7 linked regions of the Homo sapiens genome follow. The protein of the gene in region 7 interacts with the protein of the main gene of each other region in a biochemical or structural test. Each region holds a gene or a part of one and is shown on either strand. Other genes may lie near its edges.

What was found.
Region 1: of the proteins of PIAS4 (region 7) and TOP1, one has a biochemical effect on the other in vitro, tested with the Homo sapiens proteins (one study listed by BioGRID).
Region 2: the proteins of PIAS4 (region 7) and HTT form a complex in vitro, tested with the Homo sapiens proteins (one study listed by BioGRID).
Region 3: of the proteins of PIAS4 (region 7) and PRKCZ, one has a biochemical effect on the other in vitro, tested with the Homo sapiens proteins (one study listed by BioGRID).
Region 4: of the proteins of PIAS4 (region 7) and AREL1, one has a biochemical effect on the other in vitro, tested with the Homo sapiens proteins (one study listed by BioGRID).
Region 5: the proteins of PIAS4 (region 7) and SUMO2 form a complex in vitro, tested with the Homo sapiens proteins (4 studies listed by BioGRID).
Region 6: the proteins of PIAS4 (region 7) and PLAG1 form a complex in vitro, tested with the Homo sapiens proteins (one study listed by BioGRID).

Annotation. Positions count from the first base shown.
Region 1 is NC_000020.11:41,119,322-41,122,821, forward strand, and holds part of TOP1 (DNA topoisomerase 1), read left to right. Parts: intron 1-2,374; coding exon 2,375-2,469; intron 2,470-2,684; coding exon 2,685-2,834; intron 2,835-3,500. UniProt on the Homo sapiens protein: Releases the supercoiling and torsional tension of DNA introduced during the DNA replication and transcription by transiently cleaving and rejoining one strand of the DNA duplex.
Region 2 is NC_000004.12:3,241,569-3,244,457, forward strand, and holds the end of HTT (huntingtin), read left to right. Parts: 3' UTR 1-2,389; downstream 2,390-2,889.
Region 3 is NC_000001.11:2,147,911-2,151,410, forward strand, and holds part of PRKCZ (protein kinase C zeta type), read left to right. Parts: intron 1-961; coding exon 962-1,014; intron 1,015-2,879; coding exon 2,880-3,068; intron 3,069-3,500. UniProt on the Homo sapiens protein: Calcium- and diacylglycerol-independent serine/threonine-protein kinase that functions in phosphatidylinositol 3-kinase (PI3K) pathway and mitogen-activated protein (MAP) kinase cascade, and is involved in NF-kappa-B activation, mitogenic signaling, cell proliferation, cell polarity, inflammatory response and maintenance of long-term potentiation (LTP).
Region 4 is NC_000014.9:74,710,281-74,714,576, reverse strand, and holds the start of AREL1 (apoptosis-resistant E3 ubiquitin protein ligase 1), read left to right. Parts: upstream 1-1,496; 5' UTR 1,497-1,644; intron 1,645-4,296. Other genes in the region: rRNA-processing protein FCF1 homolog, read right to left, coding at 1,025-1,092, 1,377-1,379. UniProt on the Homo sapiens protein: E3 ubiquitin-protein ligase that catalyzes 'Lys-11'- or 'Lys-33'-linked polyubiquitin chains, with some preference for 'Lys-33' linkages.
Region 5 is NC_000017.11:75,172,960-75,176,459, reverse strand, and holds part of SUMO2 (small ubiquitin-related modifier 2 isoform a precursor), read left to right. Parts: intron 1-1,636; coding exon 1,637-1,708; intron 1,709-3,500. UniProt on the Homo sapiens protein: Ubiquitin-like protein that can be covalently attached to proteins as a monomer or as a lysine-linked polymer.
Region 6 is NC_000008.11:56,208,474-56,212,643, reverse strand, and holds the start of PLAG1 (zinc finger protein PLAG1), read left to right. Parts: upstream 1-1,370; 5' UTR 1,371-1,523; intron 1,524-4,170. UniProt on the Homo sapiens protein: Transcription factor whose activation results in up-regulation of target genes, such as IGFII, leading to uncontrolled cell proliferation: when overexpressed in cultured cells, higher proliferation rate and transformation are observed.
Region 7 is NC_000019.10:4,035,236-4,038,735, forward strand, and holds part of PIAS4 (E3 SUMO-protein ligase PIAS4), read left to right. Parts: intron 1-2,138; coding exon 2,139-2,269; intron 2,270-2,380; coding exon 2,381-2,640; 3' UTR 2,641-3,500.

The sequences.
Region 1 (3,500 bases), on a different chromosome or scaffold from region 7:
TTTCAGCTAGAAGCTGGGTGCAGTGGCTCACACCTGTAATCTCAGCATTTTGGGAGGTTGAGGTGGGAGAATCACTTGAGCTGAGTAATTCAAGACCAACCTGGGCAACATAGTGAGACCCTGTCTGTATTAAAAATTTAAAAATAAATATAAATAAGTTCCAAAAAGAGGTTATTGAAATTATAGATTTTTTCTCATCCAAGTTCATGGAATTCTATACTTGTACAACTGGAGTTTAAGAACTACTACTGTGGAATGAGACTGCATTTTAAGGCCCAGAATATTTTCCATTTGTTGAGATTTCCTTAAGATAAGTACCCATGAGTAATATAGCTGGTTCAAAAGGTACACACAACTTATAATTTATGCTACAGATGCCATCTGGCTTTCTTGAAGAGACGTACATGTCCACAGTGAATGAGTATACATCCATAGACCTTTGATTCCTTGGATCATATGATTGGCAGGCAAAGAACTCTATAGACGGCCCATCCTAGCAGCTCACATTTGCTGCCACTCTGTTAAATGCTGGTCATCTGGAATTGTTTATTCTCCTCATGTTATCATTACAAGCCAGAAATAAAAGCATGAATATTCAGGTGCTGTTTACCTAATTCAGGAAAACCCCTCCCAGGAGCATGAGGAGGTCTTTTGTTGCTCTCGCTCTGGAACCGGGTTTGGGCAGCCCAGGCTGCCTGCCAGATGAGCCCTCCAAACCCAGGATTCCTCTCCTGTGTGCCCACAAAGCAAACACACGCCCCTGTTTGCCAAGTGAATCAATGGAGTCTTTGATGCTTTGAGAGAATTTGACATAGCCTGCCAATTTAGCATTCACAGAAATGGTTAAAAGATCATGGTTTGCTACATTTCTATCCTAAAAAGAATCTGGCTAGTGGTGTCTGTGATGCTTTTGTATATAGAATCAGTCCCCTCAGTTTGGCTTTGGACAACATAGATGTTGGAAGTAAGCCATTCATAGTAAAACATATTTAGTGATCCTCTCACAATGGTGGCCTCTGTTTCCAATCTTGGGCTGTGTGTATCTAACAACAAACAATTCCAGGTTCAGTGAGCAGCCCAGTGTGTGTCAGACATGTTATTTACTCCGTAGAGGTTGTCTTCACCTCACATAGATGACCATAGGTATGGGGTTCTCCTGCCCTCTGAGTAGCGTGAGCTCAGTGACAGGGGCTCTAGCTCCATGTTGTTATCCACTGCTGTCTCTAAGCAGGAATCTGAGAAGAACTTAGATTCACCAGGGGTGCTTCAAAGATTCTAACAAGCAAGAAAGGCTGAAACTGCCCTTGTCTCTTCCCTTATAGATATGGATTCCATGAGAGTTCACATGGGGAAAAAAGCTCCACAGCTAAAAGTGTTTTCACATCCATTGAGTGACAACTAAGGTCCTTCCCACCTCAGACTTCTCTCCTTTTTTTTTGAGACGGAGTCTCGCTCTGTTGCCCAGGCTGGAGTGCAGGGGCATGATCTCGGCTCACTGCAAGCTCTGCCTCCCGGGTTCATGCCATTCTACTGCCTCAGCCTCCCGAGTAGCTGGGACTACAGGCACCCACCACCACGCCTGGCTAATTTTTTGTATTTTTAGTAGAGACGGGGTTTCACCGTGTTAGCCAGGATGGTCTTGATCTCCTGACCTTGTGATCCGCCCTCCTCAGCCTCCCCAAAGTGCTGGGATTACAGGCGTGAGACACCGCGCCTGGTGACCGCTCTCCTTTTAAAAACAGAATGCCAAAGCTAAGCCCTGCCATGTCCTGGTTTGGGACAGACTGGCTGAGCTGTTTGGCTTCCTGGGTGTCTTTTAATTGCCAGTTTGTAGCCCCTTGAGTACTCTCTTCAGTGCATCCATTTTCCTTGAGAAGCTGGCACCGCCTTCCCAGAGTACTGGTGGGATCTGAGGAACGAGCTGGGGTTGCCCAGTAGATGCAAGTATCCTGCTTCAGTTTCCTAAAGAGGAGCTCCTACAGTGTTCTTAGAATGAAAGCTAAGAACTGGCACAGGATCTATTTGATAAACAGCTGTCATTTGTAGCCATCCTCCCAGATGTATGACAGCAGAGTGTTCTCTGATGGAAAGATCAGCACCCAGATTCCCAGCCCCAGCGGGTTCCTTTCCCTGAGCCCCTAGGTTACTGCCCTGTAAAACCCTTGTTTCTTTCCAGATCACTGAAGAACAAATAGTTGAATTCACTAGTCCTTGTGCATCTTCTCCCTGCCTTCATGAAGCCACCCTTGTTTTTTTTTATCTGACAAACCACTGACAGAGACAGCCTGGTCCAGATAACATCTTGGTTTCACCTTCTCAGGTGGAGCCATTTTTCCTCTACAGCTCATAACCTTACCACTATTATTTCCCCTAGATTGATGCCAAGAAGGAACAGCTAGCAGATGCCCGGAGAGACCTGAAAAGTGCTAAGGCTGATGCCAAGGTCATGAAGGATGCAAAGACGAAGAAGTATGTACCTGGTATTGTGAAAGTTGGGGCTGGTAGAGAAAAGTGTGCAGCATCTGTCAGGGCCCCTGGGGCCCTGGCTTTTCGATGGTTTCTGAGAAATGTCTTTTGGAAATCTCTATACTAGGGCTTTTATTGACTCAAAGTGGCAGGATGGGTACAGTGTGCTCTTGTCTAGAGCCCAGGCCTGGTTCTTGAGGACTTTGCTATTCTTCTAGGGTAGTAGAGTCAAAGAAGAAGGCTGTTCAGAGACTGGAGGAACAGTTGATGAAGCTGGAAGTTCAAGCCACAGACCGAGAGGAAAATAAACAGATTGCCCTGGGAACCTCCAAACTCAATTATCTGGACCCTAGGATCACAGTGGCTTGGTAAGTGTTGAGCCCTCCTTGAGCTCCTGCTGCTAGCTTAAGAAAGGTGGAGGGGGTTCCGAGAGCACTGGTGGCCTTCACATGCCATTCCTAAGCTACACACTTTAGTCCTCTGGGGAAACTTCTGGCTTCAGCTGTGTACAAGTTACTCTGGTTGCTGAACCTTGTCTGTAAATGCATTGCAACATTCTGGTTGCTCCTAAATGGTCAGTGCTGTTACACTGCCTTGTAGTGTATATTTTTAAGAGGCAGGTGCCATCCCTATTCCTAATGGAACTTTAGGACAGGAATGGAAACTCTTAGCTTCTGGAAGAATAGGAAAGAGCCCATCCATCTCTACACTTCAACAAAACTTTTCGTTGAATTTTTTTGCAGTTGAAGGTAGGAACAAGAGATAAAGATGAGAATACAGATCTGAGCAACTTACACAGAGAGGCAGAGGGACCTTTAACAAAAGCAGATAAATACTAGGTTTCTCTGTGTGTCACACACAGTGTCACATAACATCTGAAACAAGTGGCTTTGTTATGGAAGATGTTTAGTTTGAGCTGTTAAGTTCTGAGCATAGGTGGAGATATCCTCCCCTATGGCACTTGCTAGTCCGGGCTAAAGTTTCCATCTAGGTCTTTTGTACCTCTTTCTGCTCGTTTTGCCTTGTTTGGTGCT
Region 2 (2,889 bases), on a different chromosome or scaffold from region 7:
TGGCTTGGTTTGGTCATGCCCGTCGATGTTTTGGGTATTGAATGTGGTAAGTGGAGGAAATGTTGGAACTCTGTGCAGGTGCTGCCTTGAGACCCCCAAGCTTCCACCTGTCCCTCTCCTATGTGGCAGCTGGGGAGCAGCTGAGATGTGGACTTGTATGCTGCCCACATACGTGAGGGGGAGCTGAAAGGGAGCCCCTCCTCTGAGCAGCCTCTGCCAGGCCTGTATGAGGCTTTTCCCACCAGCTCCCAACAGAGGCCTCCCCCAGCCAGGACCACCTCGTCCTCGTGGCGGGGCAGCAGGAGCGGTAGAAAGGGGTCCGATGTTTGAGGAGGCCCTTAAGGGAAGCTACTGAATTATAACACGTAAGAAAATCACCATTCCGTATTGGTTGGGGGCTCCTGTTTCTCATCCTAGCTTTTTCCTGGAAAGCCCGCTAGAAGGTTTGGGAACGAGGGGAAAGTTCTCAGAACTGTTGGCTGCTCCCCACCCGCCTCCCGCCTCCCCCGCAGGTTATGTCAGCAGCTCTGAGACAGCAGTATCACAGGCCAGATGTTGTTCCTGGCTAGATGTTTACATTTGTAAGAAATAACACTGTGAATGTAAAACAGAGCCATTCCCTTGGAATGCATATCGCTGGGCTCAACATAGAGTTTGTCTTCCTCTTGTTTACGACGTGATCTAAACCAGTCCTTAGCAAGGGGCTCAGAACACCCCGCTCTGGCAGTAGGTGTCCCCCACCCCCAAAGACCTGCCTGTGTGCTCCGGAGATGAATATGAGCTCATTAGTAAAAATGACTTCACCCACGCATATACATAAAGTATCCATGCATGTGCATATAGACACATCTATAATTTTACACACACACCTCTCAAGACGGAGATGCATGGCCTCTAAGAGTGCCCGTGTCGGTTCTTCCTGGAAGTTGACTTTCCTTAGACCCGCCAGGTCAAGTTAGCCGCGTGACGGACATCCAGGCGTGGGACGTGGTCAGGGCAGGGCTCATTCATTGCCCACTAGGATCCCACTGGCGAAGATGGTCTCCATATCAGCTCTCTGCAGAAGGGAGGAAGACTTTATCATGTTCCTAAAAATCTGTGGCAAGCACCCATCGTATTATCCAAATTTTGTTGCAAATGTGATTAATTTGGTTGTCAAGTTTTGGGGGTGGGCTGTGGGGAGATTGCTTTTGTTTTCCTGCTGGTAATATCGGGAAAGATTTTAATGAAACCAGGGTAGAATTGTTTGGCAATGCACTGAAGCGTGTTTCTTTCCCAAAATGTGCCTCCCTTCCGCTGCGGGCCCAGCTGAGTCTATGTAGGTGATGTTTCCAGCTGCCAAGTGCTCTTTGTTACTGTCCACCCTCATTTCTGCCAGCGCATGTGTCCTTTCAAGGGGAAAATGTGAAGCTGAACCCCCTCCAGACACCCAGAATGTAGCATCTGAGAAGGCCCTGTGCCCTAAAGGACACCCCTCGCCCCCATCTTCATGGAGGGGGTCATTTCAGAGCCCTCGGAGCCAATGAACAGCTCCTCCTCTTGGAGCTGAGATGAGCCCCACGTGGAGCTCGGGACGGATAGTAGACAGCAATAACTCGGTGTGTGGCCGCCTGGCAGGTGGAACTTCCTCCCGTTGCGGGGTGGAGTGAGGTTAGTTCTGTGTGTCTGGTGGGTGGAGTCAGGCTTCTCTTGCTACCTGTGAGCATCCTTCCCAGCAGACATCCTCATCGGGCTTTGTCCCTCCCCCGCTTCCTCCCTCTGCGGGGAGGACCCGGGACCACAGCTGCTGGCCAGGGTAGACTTGGAGCTGTCCTCCAGAGGGGTCACGTGTAGGAGTGAGAAGAAGGAAGATCTTGAGAGCTGCTGAGGGACCTTGGAGAGCTCAGGATGGCTCAGACGAGGACACTCGCTTGCCGGGCCTGGGCCTCCTGGGAAGGAGGGAGCTGCTCAGAATGCCGCATGACAACTGAAGGCAACCTGGAAGGTTCAGGGGCCGCTCTTCCCCCATGTGCCTGTCACGCTCTGGTGCAGTCAAAGGAACGCCTTCCCCTCAGTTGTTTCTAAGAGCAGAGTCTCCCGCTGCAATCTGGGTGGTAACTGCCAGCCTTGGAGGATCGTGGCCAACGTGGACCTGCCTACGGAGGGTGGGCTCTGACCCAAGTGGGGCCTCCTTGTCCAGGTCTCACTGCTTTGCACCGTGGTCAGAGGGACTGTCAGCTGAGCTTGAGCTCCCCTGGAGCCAGCAGGGCTGTGATGGGCGAGTCCCGGAGCCCCACCCAGACCTGAATGCTTCTGAGAGCAAAGGGAAGGACTGACGAGAGATGTATATTTAATTTTTTAACTGCTGCAAACATTGTACATCCAAATTAAAGGAAAAAAATGGAAACCATCAGTTGTTGCTGTGTGAGGCTTGCTTTGCTTCATGAGAACCTAGACCTTGCTGAGCTGGAGTCTTAGGAAGCAGTCTCCTAAGTGCTTCTCCAGCAGGGGCAGAAACTGTCCCACCAGCTAACATCTGGCATTATGGAGGGTCCCCCAGGCAGCTGCCAGCAGGGACAGGCCCCGTGTTTTCTGTAGCCAGGGATGAGGAAGTGGCCCCAGGGCATGGGCCTGGCTGGGTGCTTCTGCAAGGGCCTTCCCAAACCACAGTACAGGTGGTCTTCCTGCCCTGCAGATGGGAGCTGTGGGAGCTGCTGGAGCTGCTGGAGCCTTCATGGTCAAGTGACATCATAAGCTTATATGACATACACAAGCCTCAGGACTTGGCCCATGGCACTGAAGCAGGTCATCAGGCCCAGCACAGAGACTAGAGCTGTGTTCTCACAGGGCCCACCACCCTTCCACCTCCTTGGCCATTGACACCTGCGTCCCTGGCCCAGCTGCTCCCAG
Region 3 (3,500 bases), on a different chromosome or scaffold from region 7:
CTGTTGTCCACTGACCTCTCCGTCTATCCATCTATCTATTGTCCACTGACCTCTCCATCTATCCATCTATTGTCCACTGACCTCTCCATCTATCCATCCATCTATTGTCCACTGACCTCTCCATCTATCCATCCACTGTCCACTGACCTCTCCATCTATCCATCCATCTATTGTCTACTGACCTCTCCATCTATCCATCCATCTATTGTCCACTGACGTCTCCATCTATCCATCTGTCTGTTGTCCACTGACCTGTCCACCCATCTGTCTGTTGTCCACTGACCTCTCCATCTTTCCGTCTGTTGTCCACTGACCTCTCCGTCTATCCATCTATCTGTTGTCCACTGACCTCTCCATCTATCCATCTATTGTCCACTGACCTCTCCATCTATCCATCCATCTATTGTCCACTGACCTCTCCATCTGTCCATCCACTGTCCACTGACCTCTCCATCTATCCACCTATTGTCCACTGACCTCTCCGTCTATCCATCCATCTATTGTCCACTAACCTCTCCATCTATCCATCCATCTATTGTCCACTGACCTCTCCATCTATCCATCCATTGTGCACTGACCTCTCCATCTATCCGTCTTCTATCCAGGCCTCCATTCATCCCCCATCTAGTCATCCTCCATCCATCCACCAGACATCCACTCCTGCCCCTACCCACCCATTCACTAGACACCAAAATCCGGTGACGAATTATTTGCAGATGGACCCCTGGGGACGTATGTCACGAATGTACATCCCCAGGTCCCATGGTCAGAGTCGGCAGGTGTGAGTGGGGCCCAGGAAACTGCATTTTCAGAAGACTCTAAATTAGAATCAGACATGGCTGCTGTGTGGATTCACCCTTCACCGTCACCCTGCAGAGGAGCAAGGTCCACAGGGTCGCTGTGTTCCCAGTGCGTTCCTGACCACACCGTAACGCCCCTTCCTTCCTCCCTCTCTCACCAGTTGCTTACATTTCCTCATCCCGGAAGCATGACAGCATTAAAGACGACTCGGAGGTGAGTGTGTGGAGCAGCTCGCTGCCATTTCCGACGTCCTCTGGAAAGTCTGTGAGCCTGTCTCTGGGGTAGTCACGGAAATCTAGATGTGAAATAGACATGGTCCGGGGTGTTGCTAACTAATCTTCACGGGTGTGGATGTCTAGAAGGAAGTCCTTATTCTTGGGTCTTACTTCAGGCATGTCCTTGATGAATACCTGCAGGCAGCTGTCCCCGCAGGTGGTCTGGGGACCACACCCTGCGGGGGAAGCCGTGCCCCACATCCTCTCCATTCAGGTGGTACAGTGGCCCAGGGGCTGGCTTTTGAGCTGCAATTTTTATCAAGTTGTGTCTGCACCATGCCTTCCGAATTGTGTTGCCTCATTTGGCCATCCTGGCAAACCCTCTGAAGCCCTTTCATGTCCTTCCCCAACTTGAGCCAAGAGGCTCAACTGAGCCTCACGTCTGTGGCCAGCTCTGCACCATAAACCCTGAGAAGGGAACAGAAGAGCTTGCTGCGTTCTCAGCCTCTGCTCGTAAAACCCAGGGAAGGACTGCACTAGCGAAGCCCACTCCTTTCCAGAGCACCAACAAGTGTCACCCTCACAACTCGTGCTCCTTCCTGGCCATCCTGTGTCTGGAGGGAGGCCGGGGCACTTAGAAAGCAGAATCTGAGGCTGAGCACGGCGACTCACACCTCCAATCCCAGCATTTTGGGAGGCTGCGCACATCGCTTGAGTCCAGGAGCTCGAGAACAGCCTGGGCAGCATAGCGAGACCCTGTTCCTACAAAAATAAATACAAAATAATTAGCTGGGCATGGTGGCACGGGCCTGTGGTCCTAGCTGCTTGGGAGGCTGAGGTGGGAGGATCGCCTGAGCCTGGGAGGTGGAGGCTGCAGTGAGCTGAGATCGCACCACTGCACTCCAGCCTGGGCGACAGAGGAAGAGTCTGTCTCAAAAAAAGCAGAATCCGGCTGGGCGCGGTGGCTCACGCCTGTAATCCCAGCACTTTGGGAAGCTGAGGCGGGCAGATCACGAGGTCAGGAGATGGAGACCATCCTGGCTAACACGGTGAAACCCCGTCTCTACTAAAAATACAAAAAAAAAAAAAGCTGGGCGTGGTGGCGGGCGCCTGTAGTCCCAGCTACTGGGGAGGCTGAGGCAGGAGAATGGCGTGAACCCGGGAGGTGGAGCTTGTAGTGAGTCGAGATCGTGCCACTGCACTCCAGCCTGGGCGACAGAGCCAGACTCCGTCTCAAAAAAAAAAAAAAAAAAAAAGCAGAATCCATTTTGCCGCACAGAACAGCACCTCCCAAGGAACCGCCTCCTCCACCCCGACCTCCTTGCCAGGTGTAGCTTGCGGGAGGCAGAGGCTTCTGTTCTTCCTCGGAGCGCCTTTCTCCTGGGTATTTCTAATAATTATTTCTAATAATGTGTGCCTGCCGGTTTGGGAGCTCTTGGCAGGCATTAGCTGCATTCGCTTTACCTTCCTTCCCCTGAGGGAGGGCACTGATCAGGAAGGATGGGCCCAGGCCCTGGGCCACATGTCCCTGTGGCCACCTCTTCAGCCCCACTGATAGGGCTGAGGGCCTGGGGGTCCCTCCCACCTGCAGCTGTGACCAGAGCCATGGTCTGTGGAACGAACAGCTTCTAGCTTTCTAGCACCTTCCTCAGAAGCACACAGCCTTAAATTCTTACCTTTCATGCCCCAGTTTAGATGGGAGTTTGGGGGTGGGATATGTGGGACGCAGAACTGAGACTCGAATCATGAGGCCCTGGGCTCTGAGGAGCAGGTCTCTGTTGGGACCGCATGAGTGATGCGTGGTCCTCTGAGTCTCCCGGGAACCCCCCTCTCACTTTCTGGGGTCTTGTTCTCCCTCCCTAGGACCTTAAGCCAGTTATCGATGGGATGGATGGAATCAAAATCTCTCAGGGGCTTGGGCTGCAGGACTTTGACCTAATCAGAGTCATCGGGCGCGGGAGCTACGCCAAGGTTCTCCTGGTGCGGTTGAAGAAGAATGACCAAATTTACGCCATGAAAGTGGTGAAGAAAGAGCTGGTGCATGATGACGAGGTAGGTGCCGCTTCTCATGGGGCCCGGGGGCCCGGGAACGCGCTGCCCTGGGGCCTCCTCCGGGCTTTAGCGGAATTAATCCATGCACGAGAGACCTAGCCTCACGTTGACGGAGTTTGTGCAAAATCAATAGTCATGCATCGTGTAATGACCAGGATGTGTTCTGGAAAGTGCCTGGTTAGGTAATGGCACTGTTGTGTGAACATCACAGTGTGCACTCCACAAACCCAAACAGCACAGCCAACTCCACAGCCAAGATGCACAGTGCAGCTCCTGCTCCCAGGCTGCAAGCCCGTACGGCTGTTAGTGCACTGCACACTGCAGGCAGTGAGGGGACCACCACGAGAGCACTCACGTGTCTAAGCTTAGAAAAGGTGAAGATGGGTATCGTGGTCTCTGCAACCTTCTCATGTATGGCCAACCACTGATACG
Region 4 (4,296 bases), on a different chromosome or scaffold from region 7:
GGATCACAATCCACTTCCAAGCAATGGGTAAAAGGGTGACAGTTATCTTCTGAAGATTCAGATGCTTTAACTTTTGGGGGAAAAGTATTACCCCATATGCTTCTTATAAAGGGCTAAAATGTAAAAACGCATATACAGAACTTAACCCTTAACTAGAAAGAAATTATTATTAATGGAGTGTCATTCCTAAAAATTACACAATACATCCACACTAAAGGCTGAGAATAATAATTCTGAAGGTTTTAACGACTATTCTCTTATTCTGAGACTCTTTTTTGTATTTTTAGTGGAGACAGGGTTTCACCGTGTTGGCCAGGCTGGTTTTGAACTCCTCACCTCAGGTGATCCACCCGCCTCAGCCTCCCAAAGTGCTGGGATTACAGGCGTGAGCCACTGCGCCCGGCTTTCTGAGACTCTTAAACTCAGTGAAGATCAGTCTTTATTTAATAGCTATGCTTATTCTACACTTAAGCAGGGACACCGCTTTGATCCTCTTCATACTAGGGAATTTCACTTCACTTTCTTCTTCCACAGTGATTTGGATTCTTATATTAGTAAGACTTATAAAATGGAGATATCTTGGAGTTTTCCCATTTTCTCTGACAAAAATATTTGAGTACCAGGCACTGGAAACGCCAGACAAACAAGGTCTCTAACCTTGCCATCTTTCAACAAGAAACACTCCCCTCGCCCCACCCCAGGGGAATGTAGTAGTGTAATGGTAAAAACATAAAGAGAACTATACGGACTTCACCGAACTGACATGAGGTTTAAATGCGATATGGCAGACAAAGCATATAACGGTAGAAAAAGTGAACACTTAAGAAATGTTTAATTCCCATCGCCTTTCCCAGTGTGATCGCTCAGCAGCTAAATTACTGTTAAACACTGGCTATCTCATGCTATATAAATCTAAGACACGATAATAAGCAAAAAACAAAATAATAACAACAAACATTTTTACTACTTATCCTCTCTAGACTCTTATTAGAATATCCCTGGGCAGTTGATTCCAGACACTCACAGCCTCTGATCTCTGAGACTAAGCATTCGCTTCATGGTCGCATACTTCCTTGTTTTCTTTTGCTTCCCCTTGAAACAGAAATTTTAGAATTAAAAAAGTTGGAAACACACGGCATCTTTTAAAGTCTCTTCTTTTCTCTTGTCTATTGCCTTCCCTTCTTGCCTCAAATAACCCAGACCCTCTTCCCCACTCTGTAAAGCATAACAGTCACCGCTTGGAGAAGTTTAAGAGCTAAGACCAGAATGAAAATATGCTAGGATAATGTGAAGGAAATTTGGCCACGGTCTGACTACCTCCTTCTCCACCCAAAAAGTGGCCTGATAACGTCCCTTCTTGGACCGTCTTCTCTCACCATGGTCACGCCAAACTCCTGGTTCTTCCGTAATCACCAACGGCGCAATACTTCTACGTCATTCACATACTGCTTCCGGCAAAGGATAGCCCGGAAGCGGAAACTCCTTGGGGAAAGGGCAATCCCCCGAGCCGGTTCCCAGGCCGGGTGGAGACCAACTCTGGGGTCTGTTGGTGGGAGAGTGGGGAGCCCGTCTTCTGCTGAGTGCTGCCGCCCCTTCCCAGGACAGCGGAGGTGGAACTTCGTCGCGCTGCAACCCCCGGCTCGGGTAACGTTTCTCTCCAGCCTTAGGCAGAGCCCAGAAGACCTGCCTTTACCAGAGTTCCAGAGAGAGAGGGAGGAAAAGGGTAGGGGGGTTCAGACTCCTGGTTTGCCCAGTAGTTTGGGGGAACACATTCTCCTCACCCTGTAGCGTTGGGGTATCCGGTGTCTATGGTCCAGCCCTGAGGCTGTGGTTCCTATTTGGTTTTCCTAGCCGATATGGTGCTTTGTGCAGCTAGGTGGATGATTGTTCTCGAGTATATACCGTGTACTCCTCTCGGTGAAGAGAGAAATGAAGCAGTGTTTGAGGGCCTAGACTATCGCTAGAGAATTGGGGCATAAGCTTGCATATGTTACTACTTACCCAAGCCAAGAAAATGGTGAGATACAATGCACATTTATTGTGAAGCCTTGGTGTGTCATCTTTAAGTAAAAAGGGAGAATTTGTGAGAACAAGGAGCGAAAGGTAGCTTTTTTCTTTGAGTACCTGCTATGTATTCCAGTGGTTCTTAACTTTTTGGAGATAACTTATTTCTTGAAAGTTTGTGGAAAGCCAGGAACAATTCTTTAAAAAATGGGCACACATACAGTTTGTAATACACTTAATGAGATTGGTGGACTCTGAAGCCCATCCGTGGACCCTCTGGGTGTCTGTAAACTTTAAATGAAAACCCCCATCCTGTATACTGTACTTGTCACTTTATTCATATTACCTTCTTTGACCTTCTCAATAACATAAATTCTTTTATTTTACATATGGGGAAATTGAGCCCCAGACTTTGTTCAGGGGTCTGTTTGAGTCTCGTGATTCCAAAGTCTGTACTTGTATTTCTTTTTTTCTTTTTCTTTCTTTCTTTCTTTCTTTTTTTTTCTTTTTTTTTTTTTTTTTTTTTTTTTTTTTGCACTTTGTCTTCCATTCTCCAGCTACTGATCAAGCTGGGAACGGAATGGGTACCTCTGTCATACTTTTCTTATTGCATGATGCTATCCTAGAGTTGGAAGTAAAATATGTTATCAGGTTTAAAAAAGAAGGTGACCATTGTATAACCCTTATGATGAAAACACGTTTATTGTTTAACACGAACTTTGGAGTCTGACTGATGGGGTTAAAATCCTTGCTCTGCCTTATAACTCGCCATGACATTGGGTGAGTTAATCTATCTGCATCTCAGTTTCTTTATCTGTAAAATGGAGATAATCATAGTAGCACTCTTTTATTGGGATGTTATCAGGACTTATGTTTATTCATAGTTAACATGCGAGGTCCCTAGAAGAGTGTAAACCAGACTACTCAGAGTGTTTTCTGTTGTTACCATTGTGTGTCTTCCAACTTGAGGATGTGTGGCAGGGTTGGAATTTTATGCCAATTTTATTTTATTTTATTTTATTTTATTTTTGAGACAGAGCCTCCCTCTGCTGCCCAGGTTGGAGTGCAGTGGCGCAATCTCGGCTCACAGCAACCTCCCCCTCCCAGGTTCAAGCAATTCTCCTGCCTCAGCCTCCCGAGTAGCTGGGACTGCAGGCATGTGTGTGCCACCATACCTTGCTAATTTTTGTATTTTTAATAGAGATGGGTTTCACCATGTTGGCAAGGCTGGTCTCAAACTCCTGACCTCAGGTGATCTGCCCACCTCGGCCTCCCAAAGTTCTGGGATTACAGACGTGAGCCACTGTGCCAAGCCCCAATTTTTTTTTTTTTTTTTTGAGACGGAGTTAGTTTCGCTCTTGTTACCCAGGCTGGAGTGCAATGGCGCAATCTCGGCTCACTGCAACCTCCACCTCCCAGGTTTAAGCGATTCTCCTGCCTCAGCCTCCTGAGTAGCTGGGATTACAGGCGTGCGCCAACACGCCTGGCTGATTTTATATTTTTAGTAGAGACGGGGTTTCTCCATGTTGGTCAGACTGGTCTTGAACTCCCGACCTCAGGTGATCCGCCCACCTTGGCCTCCCAAAGTGCTGGGATTACAGGCGTGAGCCACCGTGCCTGGCACCAGCCCAATTTTATTTTAACATAGTTGCACTGGAACTTGAACGTGTTCATAAACCTCAAAACATTAAGTTTTCAGGTCCTGGGATGCTCAATCGCAGGGTGATTTCTTCTGTTGATTTGGGTGTAAACTTTTTCTGCTTCTCCTTTCTCTTTCAGGCACACATTCATTTAGATGGCTTAATAGTTTACATATCTGTGGGCACTGAATTTTTGATGTAGAAATGGTAGCTACAGATACTGTATGTGCCTTCTGCTTTACCCCATTTGTGGTCACTAGAAGTTCCTAATCTTTCTGGAGCAGCTTGTCTCTGTCAAGCTGCCATTCATGTGTAGAGCTAATAGCAACCAGTTTTTTGATGTATCTCTTGGTGATTAGACAATAAGCTTTTTATTGTCTAAAAGCTAAAATAACATGGTCAGTTATTCTTCTTAAACATTTGACTCATTAGTATTATATATAGGTTCAGAGGGAAAATTGCATATCATTAAATAGTAATTTGCATTTAAATTTAGGCACTGACAGAAAAACGCTCTTCTGGTAATGTGTACTTTGAATTTTGGAATCCATGAACAACAACAACTTAAAAAAAGGCCATTTGTAATTTCTATTGTAACCTCTATTGAGAGTGTTCTGATTTCCTTGATTGTTAATACCTAATAGGGAGCTAA
Region 5 (3,500 bases), on a different chromosome or scaffold from region 7:
ATTTTCAGTAGAGGCGGGGTTTCACCATATTGGCCAGGCTGATCTTGAACTCCAGACCTCAGATGATCTGCCTTGGTCTCCTAAAGTGTTGGAATTACAGTGTGAGCCCCCGAGCTCAGACTGGAGTCTTTAAATGGGCATTTTTTTCCTTTAAATTTCCTGTTAGTGGCCAGCCAGGCGGATCACGAGGTCAGGAAATTGAGACCATCCTGGCTAACACGGTGAAACCCCATCTCTACTAAAATACAAAAAATTAGCCCAGCATGGTGGCATGAGCCTGTAGTCCCAGCTACTGAGGAGGCTGAGGCAGGAAAGTCACTTGAACTCCGGTGGTGGAGGTTGCGTTGAACTGAGATTGTTCCACTCACTCCAGCCTGGGCGACAGAGCGAGACTCCATTTAAAAAAAAAAAATTTCATTTCCTTGTCTAACTCATTTAAATGCATATTTGTCTCAAGGTATGTTCTATTTAACATTATAGTAGCTGTGTCTGAAAAGCAGTAAAGCTTTCTAAAAGAATGACTTACTGGCTGGGCGCAGTGGCTCACACCTGTAATCCCAGCGTTTTGTGAGGCTGAGGTGAGTGGATCACTTGAGGTCAGGAGTTCGAGATCAGTCTGGCCAACATGGTGAAACCCTGTCTCTACTAAAAACACAAAAATTAGCTGGGCATGATGGCAAGCGCCTGTAATCCCAGCTACTCGGGAGGCTGAGGCAGGAGAACCACTCGAACCCAGGAGGCGGAGGTTGCAGTGAGCCAAGATCGCACCACTGCACTCCAGCCTGGGCGACATAGCAAAACTCTGTCTTAACAAACAAACAAAAACAACAACAACAAACAGGCCGGGCACAGTGTCTTATGCCTGTAATCCCAGCACTTTGGGAGGCTGAGGTGGTCAGATCATCTGAGGTCAGGAGTTCGAGACCAGCCTGGCCAACATGGCGAAACCCTGTTTCTACTAAAAAATACAAAAATTAGCCAGGCATGGTGGCGCCTGCCTAGTCCCAGCTAATCAGGAGGCTGAGGCAGGAAAATTGCTTGAACCCAAAAGGTGGAGGTTGCAGTGAGCCGAGATCGCGACACTGCCCTCCAGCCTGAGTGACAGAGCAAGACTCTGTCTCAAAAAAAAAAGAAAAGGAAAAAAAATACTACATCTTACTGTTCACTGAAAATGAGAGGCTGGGCACCATGGCTCACTCCTGTAATCCCAGCACTTTGGGAGGCTGAGGCGGACGGAGCACCTGAGGTTAGGAGTTCGAGACCAGCCTGGCCAACCTGATGAAACCCAGTCTCTACTAAAACTACAAAAATTAGCCGGTTGTTGTGGCGGGGGACCGTAGTCCCAGCTACTCTTGGGAGGCTAAGGCAGAAGAATCGCTTGAACCAGGAGGTGTAGGTTGCCTTGAGCTGAGATCACGCCACTGCACTTCAGCCTTGACAACAGATCAAAACTGTCTCAAAAAAAAGAAAATGAAAATCACCCCAAATCTTTTTACCTATAGGGTATGTTAACATGTTGGCAATTGTTTATTTAGGTATTTCTTTAATATATTCATGGTTAAATATGCATGTACTTTTATGTAAATAGAATTCTGTTTCTCTTAATGCTGTTTATTGCTTTTAAATTCTCGTTCAGGGATTGTCAATGAGGCAGATCAGATTCCGATTTGACGGGCAACCAATCAATGAAACAGACACACCTGCACAGGTAAAAAAATCTCTCCTAATTAGAAAAATTACCATTTGTAATTCTTTGAACAGCTGTGTTTATGAATTTGAACGTTTAGACACTGGAGTATAAGTTCTTGTAGAGTTCAGAGCTTTGGGAAGTATGACCAGAGGGGAACAGAAAGGAAAATAGGAATAGGCTCAGGAAATGCCAATGGTTTTTATTCATTTATTTTTAATTTTCATTTTAATTATTTTTTTAGGGACAGGGCCTCTCTGTTGCCCGGGTTGAAGTGTAGTGGCCTCATTATAGCTCACTGCAGCCTTGGCCTCCCAAAGTGATGGGATTATAGGCACGAATCAATGTGCCCAACCCCACCAGTGGTTTGTGTTTGTTTTTTGTGACGGAATCTCACTCCATCGCCCAGGCTTGAGTACAGTGTCACGATCTTGGGTCATGGCAGCCCTCGCCTGCCATGCTTAAGCAATTCTCCTGCCTCAGCCTCCCAGAGTAGCTGGGATTACAGGCATGCACCACCATGCCTGGCTAATTTTTGTATTTTTGGTAGGGATGGGGTTTCACCATGTTGGCCAGGCTGGTCTTGAACTGCTGACCACAAGTAATCCGCCCGCCTTGGCCTCCCAAAGTGTTGGGATTGACAGGTGTGAGCCACCGCACCCAGCCAAATCCTCACCATTTTAGTTCTACATGCTGAATTGAAATTCTCTTTTACGTGTCTTCATGAACAAAAAGGAACTAATAGCCCTAATTGCCACGTCCCATAGCTTTGTTTGACAGGGAGAGCCCCTGATAATAGGAGATTTTCCAGATCCTTACTACAAAACGTGATGCTCTCTGATCCTTTAACTCTTTATGTACCACTTCATTTTGTTCTGTCACTTTCTGTAGGATCAGCTGGATTGTCTTCTGTGGCAGAAGCTCTTTGTTTCTTTTTACCCTTTCAAAGTTCCATTAAATACTTCCAGTTTTGTCCTAGCAGGGTGGCTCATGAGAGCCATTTTCAAGATTACAAAGTGCTTGTAATGCCAGCACTGTGACGCCAAGGTGGGCGGAGCACTTGAGTCCAGGATTTCAAGACCAGCCTGGGCAACATGGCAAAACCCTCTCTTTACAAAAAAATACAAAAATTAGCCAGGGAGCAGTGGTACGTGCCTGTAGTACCAGCTACTTCTTAGGGTGAGGTGGAAGGATTGCTTGAGCCCAGGAAGTGGAGGCTGCCGTCACCCAAGATGGTACCACTGCACACCAGCCTGGGTGACAAAGTGAGGCCCTCTCTCAAAAAAAAAAAAAAATGACTTCCAGTCTTGTCCTGACTTGGTGGCTCACACCTGTAGTCCTATCACTTTAGGAAACTGACACTGGCAGGAGGGTTGCTTGAGGCCAGGAGTTTAAGACCAGTCTGGGCAATATAGCAAGACCTGGTCTCTACAGGAAAGAAAAAGAGCTGGGCATGGTAGCATGTGTCTGTAGTCCCAGCTTCTTGGGAAGTTTAGTGGGAGGGGTGCTTGAGTCCAGGAGTTTCAGGCCGCAGTGAGTTATGATCATACTACTGCACTCCAGCCTGGGCGATAGAGCAAAACTCTGTCTCAAAAATAGAAGACTTACAGTTTCTGAAACATATTTTACAATGTTGTGATAGTAGAAATTTAAATTGGATCCCATGTACTTTTGAATTTCAACTTTATCACCCAGTAAAAACTAGAAAGTGATAAATGTGGCATGAAGCAGCACATCCAGATTGTAGTTTTGTTGATAATCTTTGAAAATTGGAAAAGCCCCTGAGTTGTACTGAAAAGAAGAATATTTTGAA
Region 6 (4,170 bases), on a different chromosome or scaffold from region 7:
AGGCTCTACTACTTGCAGAGCATAACCAGAAAGAAAAACCAAGCAAAGATATGAAGGAGGGGCCACAAAACCATAGCACATTCAGGGGATAACTCTAAAATCCACTCCAAAGGGCAAACTGCTTAATAAAGCAGTTCCTGATTTCCCATCCAGTGGTTCACGTCCCCCCTCTCTAAGTAGCTTTGAAAGGGCAGGGGGAAGGAAACGTTTCTGAACACGTTCATGCCCACACGCCCCGTGGTCGGAGCCCAGGCAGGGTCCGCGGCTCTGCTAAACCCGGAAGCTGCACACGCCGTGCCGTTAACCCACTGCCAGGTGCAAAGTGGAAGGGGGCAAGAAGTCAAGGGTGGCCTGCCGGAGGTGGGCGCGCAGGGCAAGGAGAAACGAAGGGCGAACCCGAGGCCTCGCCGCCTTCCGCGGTGTAGCCCGTCAGCATCTGATCCTGGACGGCGCGCACAGGTGAACACACCTTGCTGTGCCGAGACCATGCCGAGAGAGACAAGGGGCGAGGAAAACGCAGGGAACTGGGGGTGGGGCCGGTAACTGCGCTTCAGAGGCTACACAGGAGAGTGGAAGAAGAGCTGGGGTTGCCCGGACTAGGCAGAGGTCATCTTCCTCGCCCCCGGAGCGAACAGACCCGTGTGGCGGGAGGAAGAGCAACGGGAAGAGGTCCGCGCTGCGGCGAAGCCTGGCGGGAGCGCCTCCGCGCCGCAGAAGTGCATTCGGGCCCCGCTACGGCCCAAGGGCACCCCTCTCTCCCCGCTTTTCTGCGGCCGCTTCGGAGGTAGGGCGGGGGAACCACTCACCTCCGGCCTCCGCTTCGCCAGCACCCAGGCCGTCTCCAGCTCCAAACACGTCAATGGCTCACGCAGCAGGACCTTAAGTAGCGCGCATCCCAACTTGCTGCCCCCGCTCCCCGGCGGCAGCCCGCCCAATCGGCGCGCGCCGCCGCCAGACTGACAGCCGCGCGGGGCCCTGGGCCGCAGGGGCGGTCGGGCCTCGCCCCGCCCCCGCCTGGCGAAAGGAGGGCCGAGGCGGGAGGAGTGGGCGGGGCGGTGAGCGCGACCCCGCCCCCTCTTCCCCCGCCCCACCGCGCCCCCCAGCCGCGGCCCGTCTCTTAACACTTCGGCTTGACGGGCGGCGTCGCGGCCCAATGGGCGGGCCAACTCCCGCCAGCGGCGGCTCCGAGTGGCCAGCTCTCGGGCGGAGCGCGCGCGGGGGGCGGGCGCAGCGGCGGGCGGGGTTTGGGGGCGGGCCGACGGGAGGCGGGGGCGGTGGCCGAACAGGCAGGGGGAGGCAGCGGTGGGCGCGACGTCGGCGGCGGCGGCGGCGGCGGCGGCGGCAGCTGCAAGTTGGGCTGCAGGGGCAGCGCATACACTACAATGGCTGCTGGAAAGAGGCGTAAGGAAACAATTTCCAGGCCCGCCGCGTCCAGCCCGAAATATGAGAAAAAAATTATTAGAAATTCCGCGGGCGGTGTAGAGGCGGCGGACGGGCCGGAGGGAGGATGTTAAAGCCCCGCGGTGAGTTCTCCGGGGGTCCGGGGCGGCGGCGAGGCGTTTAGCGGGAGAAATATCAGGGTTATTTAAATTATGGGACTAGCCGAGGGGGCAGAGGAGCAGCGGCGGCGGCAGGAGGAGGAAAAGTTTGTGCTACTCTCAGCCCCTGCTCAGGACCCCAGAGAGAAAAATAATAATAAAAAATAAAATAAAATAATTACGCGGGGCTGCGAGGACTCCCGAAGTCGCTTCTGACAGGGCAGGGGGCGATGCGGCTGGGGACCCGAAGGTGAGGTCGGTGGGAAAAAAAAAAAAACCTTTATTCAGGGTCTGGAAAGTTTGAAAAGTTTTCCTCCTCCTCCTCCTCCTCCTCCTCTCTGGTGCTGTGAATATTGTGACAGCGGCAGCGGCAGCAGCGAGAGCGGAAGACATTAGAGACCCGAAAAATAAGGGAAAAATTAATATAAATTCAGTTTTGAGAGTAAACTCTCCGCATTTTCCACCAAAACATCCCGGGGGAAGGTCGCTTCCCAAAGGGCCTGGCGGAAACCCGCAGTCGGCAATATTTGGGGGGCACTTTGAGTGACTTGGGGTAACTTTGCCCCTTTTTCAAAAGAGGTTTTTCTTTTCTGGAGAAATGAATTTGTTTTTGCCCTTTCCTCAGGTGGGCAAGCCGGGGTCGGGGTGCGGGGTCTGCAGGGAGGTGTGAGCCCGGGGTGTGTGGCTGCGAGGGGGGGTAGGGGGAGGGGGTGCTAAATGAAAGCAGGAGATCGGCACAGAGCAGGGACAGCTTGTTGTCAGTATCATAAACAACCAAAATGGAGGGAGAACTCAGGCATATAACCAAATAAAAATTTTTAAAAAATCGCAAAAAATCCCTAAAAATCCGGGATGCTCCCCCTTTTCTCGCTAAAGGTAAAAGTATGTACCGCCTTTCCCCTGAAGTCCATTTTGACTTTGCAGGGACCAAGGAGTTAATATTTATTTATTTTTTAAAACTTTCGAAGGGCAAAAGCCTTTTATAACTCAACCGACAATGAGAAAACGTGAAAATCCGATGCAAGAGAAGCAGGGGGAGCGAGGGGGGAGGTGGTAGTGCAGAAACTGCTAAACTTATTGGTAATGTGGACTGATCTCAGATAAGATAAACACTATATTTGCTATTTTATAACTCTCTTTTAATGATCTTTGCGGGGTTTTTTTGGGTGGAAAAAAAAGTGATGCCATTTTCTTAATAGAGTTAATATGTGTGATTGGAAGAATGAACCTTTCCGGCTTTAGATTGCATTTTCGTCGCATTTATGCTTCAGGTTTTGTTAGTGGCTCCCTCCTTTCTTTAAACTGGGCTCTGCAGAGGAGGGATAGAGAGGTGATGGTGCTCAGAGAGGCTGGAGTGCAAGGCTGGAGTACCTTTTGGGGAGGGATGTGGAGTTGCTTGGTTTCCCCCTTCCTGACATGTTTGCTTCACCTGTTCATCCTTCCTAAAGAATGTTAAGCTGAGGTTTTCTGGTTTTATGTGTATAAAAGGATGATGTCTCTTGCATCACATTGATGTTAATGGGAAAGTGCTGCTGATGTTGGTTCCACGTGGGATATGGGACAGAGCAGGGCATTTTAAAGGGACAGCTTCTCTTTTCTTATGGTTTTCATCACCTACACAGAATCACTGTCTGAGGACCAAAAGCAGAGGTGCTGGGAGGGTGTGGTGATGGAAGAGCCTTCCCTTTCTGTTACTCCAGTGCACCCACCCATAGGAGTGATGGAGGGACAGGAGGGATAAACAGCCTCAACCGAAGATGGATATGTGTATAGTTTGTATCCAAACTGTTCCTTTGTGTAACAAGCCCTCCCAGGAACTTTTCATGTTACATTGCTTTGCTTTGGAAGCTGATTTTGGAAGGAATTGTGGAAAAATGGAAATAGTTTAAGGTGTGTGGTGTAATGGTATAGCATTATTGAACAGTTATGAATTCTGTGCAGTGAGATCAAAGAGCTGTGTATGCCCATAATGTGATTTTACAGCCATTTTGTAAAAACTGTAAAATACCTTAATATTCAATTTGGCTTAAGGTACATTGAGGACTTCTGGTTGAAAATTACAGAGTGGTGAAGATTCTTTAAAATTGTAAGCAGTAGGCATTTCTTTAGGGGGAAGGAAAGCACACACACCAACACCATGGAAAAGTTTACACATCCATTTTTAAAGTCCATCCTATGCATGGGTTGTAACTTTGCGCCTTTGAAATGAAAAGATTTTTAAAATCCTGAGCCCTGTGAGTTTTCATTTTCTAAGTTGAATTTATTTGTGTTATTTAACAGAAAGTGTTTACTGACCATAAACTACTATCGGCTCTTATGTTTTAGATTTCCACGATATTTTCAAAATTTAAAATGTGTAAATTGTTAGCTGTACTATAATGGGGATTAAGGTTAATCTTCAGTAGAAATTACTTGTGTTCCATTTTCCACAGGTATATGGAGTTTCTGAAATAAATCCTTATTTCCTCTTGTTTTTATTATTTATAGACATGGATTAAAATTAGAGCTGAATTTTTAGACTTCTTATATAGAATGTTTTTTCTTGCCCTACTGTATAAACAAGTTATTATTTTTGTAGTCTATTGTATGTTAACTTGTGTTTACAACTGAGTTCTTCCAACTTTCTGTAAAT
Region 7 (3,500 bases):
AGAACGATGCCACTGCGGGTGCCTGGGAGCAGCTGTAGCCTTGACAGTAACAGGCCAGCCTGGGCCCTGCATGGACCCGTGGGGCAGGGGGCCTCTCCTCAGACGCCCCCCAGCCACTGCACCTTTCCCTTCCTGCGGGTGGGGAGACTGAGGCCCTTTGGCTAAGACGGGTTGGGGAGCAGAACCAGGGCCTGCCTCCAGTTGGCCTTGTGGCCTCAGGGAACTCGTTCCCTTCCCGAGCCTCTGTTTCTGCATTTGTAAAATGGGGCTGGTAGGACCTCCGAGTAAAAAGGCCGGACACAGTGGGGGTGCTCTGGAGAGGCTGTGGCTGGCATGGGCGTGGGGAGCCCGCACTCTGCTCCCATTGCTACCCTCACAGCCTCTGCAGGGGCTTTGAGCAGCCAGCACCTTCACTCCAGCCTGTTTCCTGATCTGGCGGGCACACAGTGCAATGTGAAAGCAGGTGTGCGTGCACACCCACACCCGCATGCCCACACATCCATACAGTCCACACCATCACACACACACACCCACACACATCCATACAGTCCATACCATCACACACACCCGCACACATCCATACAGTCCACACCATCACACACACACCCGCACACATCCATACAGTCCACACCGTCTCACACACACACCCGCACACATCCATACAGTCCACACCGTCTCACACACACACCTGCACACATCCATACAGTCCACACCATAACACACACATACAGTCCACACCGTCATACACACACACACACATCTGTACAGTCCACACCTTCACACATCCATACAGTCCACACCGTCATACACACACACATCTATACAGTCCACACTGTCACACATCCGTACAGTCCACACCGTCATACAAACACACACACATCTATACAGTCCACACCGTCACACATCCGTACAGTCCACACCGTCATACAAACACACACACATCTATACAGTCCACACCGTCACACATCCATACAGTCCACACTGTCATACACACACACATCTATACAGTCCACACCATCACATGCACACACATCTATATGGTCTACACCGTCACACACACACACATCTATACAGTCCACACCTGTTACATGCACACATCTATACAGTCCACACCGTCACACATCTATACAGTCCACACCGTCATACACACACACGTCTATACAGTCCACACTGTCACACATCCGTACAGTCCACACTGTCATACAAACACACACACATCTATACGGTCCACACCGTCACACATCCATACAGTCCACACCGTCATACAAACACACACACATCTATACAGTCCACACCTGTTACATGCACACATCTATACAGTCCACACCGTCACACATCCATACAGTCCACACCGTCATACACACACACATCTATACAGTCCACACCGTCTCACATCTATACAGTCCACACTGTCATACACACACATCTATACAGTCCACACCGTCACACATCCATATAGTCCACACCATCATACACACACACATCTCTACAGTCCACACCATCACATGCACACACACATCTATATGGTCTACACCGTCACACACACACACACATCTATACAGTCCACACCGTCACATATCTGTACAGTCCACACCGTCACACACACACGCCCACACCCGCATGCCACACATCCATACAGTCCACATTCACGTATGCCCATATGCATCCATTCACACGTGTGTACACATGCTCACACACACACATTCATAGACTCCACACATGCACACGTGCACACACACGCACATGCTCGCACACATGCACAGATACACTCACGTCCACACACGCTCAAACATGCGTGCACACCCGGAGGTGCCCAGAGGGGCAGGGTGGGGAGGACCCCTGCAGCTGCCACACTCCCTGCTCTTGTGGGTAGTTGGGGGCCACTGGGTATGTGTGTCCATGCCCCGTCCCCCCGGCAGTGCCGTGCACTGCAGACCTGCCTGGGGCTCAGCACCTGCAGGGGCCTGAGGGCGGGGGAGGGAATGCGGGGTCCCTGGACCCCTGCGGTCGGGGTGGTGAGGCTGCTCTTGCAGAGAGAAGTGGGGAGTGCCTGGCTGCATCCGGGAGGGATGGAGGGCTGGGGAGTTGGGGGGGTGGGGCACCTCCAGCCCCGGCGTCAGCTGTCCGCCTCGCCCCAGGCTCCTCTCGAAGATCCTGAGCGAGTGTGAGGACGCCGACGAGATCGAGTACCTGGTGGACGGCTCGTGGTGCCCGATCCGCGCCGAAAAGGAGCGCAGCTGCAGCCCGCAGGGCGCCATCCTCGTGCTGGGTGAGTGCCTCACCCCACCAGCCGCGCAGTCCGCAGCCAGGGCCGCCTCAGTTTCCCCATTTATCAGTGGTTGCATCCTAAGTACCTGCACCCTGTCCCTGTTGCCCGTAGGCCCCTCGGACGCCAATGGGCTCCTGCCCGCCCCCAGCGTCAACGGGAGCGGTGCCCTGGGCAGCACGGGTGGCGGCGGCCCGGTGGGCAGCATGGAGAATGGGAAGCCGGGCGCCGATGTGGTGGACCTCACGCTGGACAGCTCATCGTCCTCGGAGGATGAGGAGGAGGAGGAAGAGGAGGAGGAAGACGAGGACGAAGAGGGGCCCCGGCCCAAGCGCCGCTGCCCCTTCCAGAAGGGCCTGGTGCCGGCCTGCTGACCCCGGCCGCACACTCGACTTTCCTGGTGCTCACCACGCAGAGGGGCACGGGCCAGCCTCGGGCGCAGAGGGAGGAGTGACCTTTCTTTTTCTTTTTATTGTCGTTCGTTTTGTTTTTCCACCCTTTTGCCTGGCTCCTGGCACCTGTACCTCTGGACTCTCCTATCGGGGGATTAAAAAAAAAAGTAAAATGACAAAAAAAGATACAAAAAAGAAAAATGAAACAAAAAAGTCAAACTCTTAAAAACAAGGCCGGCCACCCACACAGCCGCCTCCCCGGCTGGAGTCCGAGCCGGGAAGGGGTAGTGGGCGGGAGGGACCAGGACGCCGCCCCGCGCCCTCCCCTCCGGATGCCCCGCCGCCCGCCGCCCTCTGCCCACGACCATTCCAGCCAGTGCGCGGGGACCCGGGCGGCGGGCGGTGGGGCGCAGCCCCTCTCTGGCGACCACTTTGACGTTTGTCTCTTCCTTTGCTTTTTCTCTGCAAATGCATCCTCGCCCAGAGACCCTCACGCGCCGAGCAGCGAGCGTTTTAGCCGAGAAGCCATGGAGTGGGTTGGGGCGGGGAGGGGCAGTAGGGTGGGGGGATGGGTGGGCAGGATGGGGGTACAGTGGGCGGCTGGGGAGGGTTTAGCCACAGATGTGTTGTATTTTTTGAAAGTGCAATAATTTGGTATTTTGAAGACCCGGCGTGTGGTCAGGAACCCCCGGGGAAGGCGGGGGCCCAGGGTGCGGCACCGTGTGGCGTGGGGGGGTCTCAGTTTTCTAGCCAGCTACCTCGGTAATTCCAATTCAGGTTAACTTCCCTACGGAACAGCACAGATGTCCACAGATGTCCACAGCTGCCGCCGCCGCCGCCGC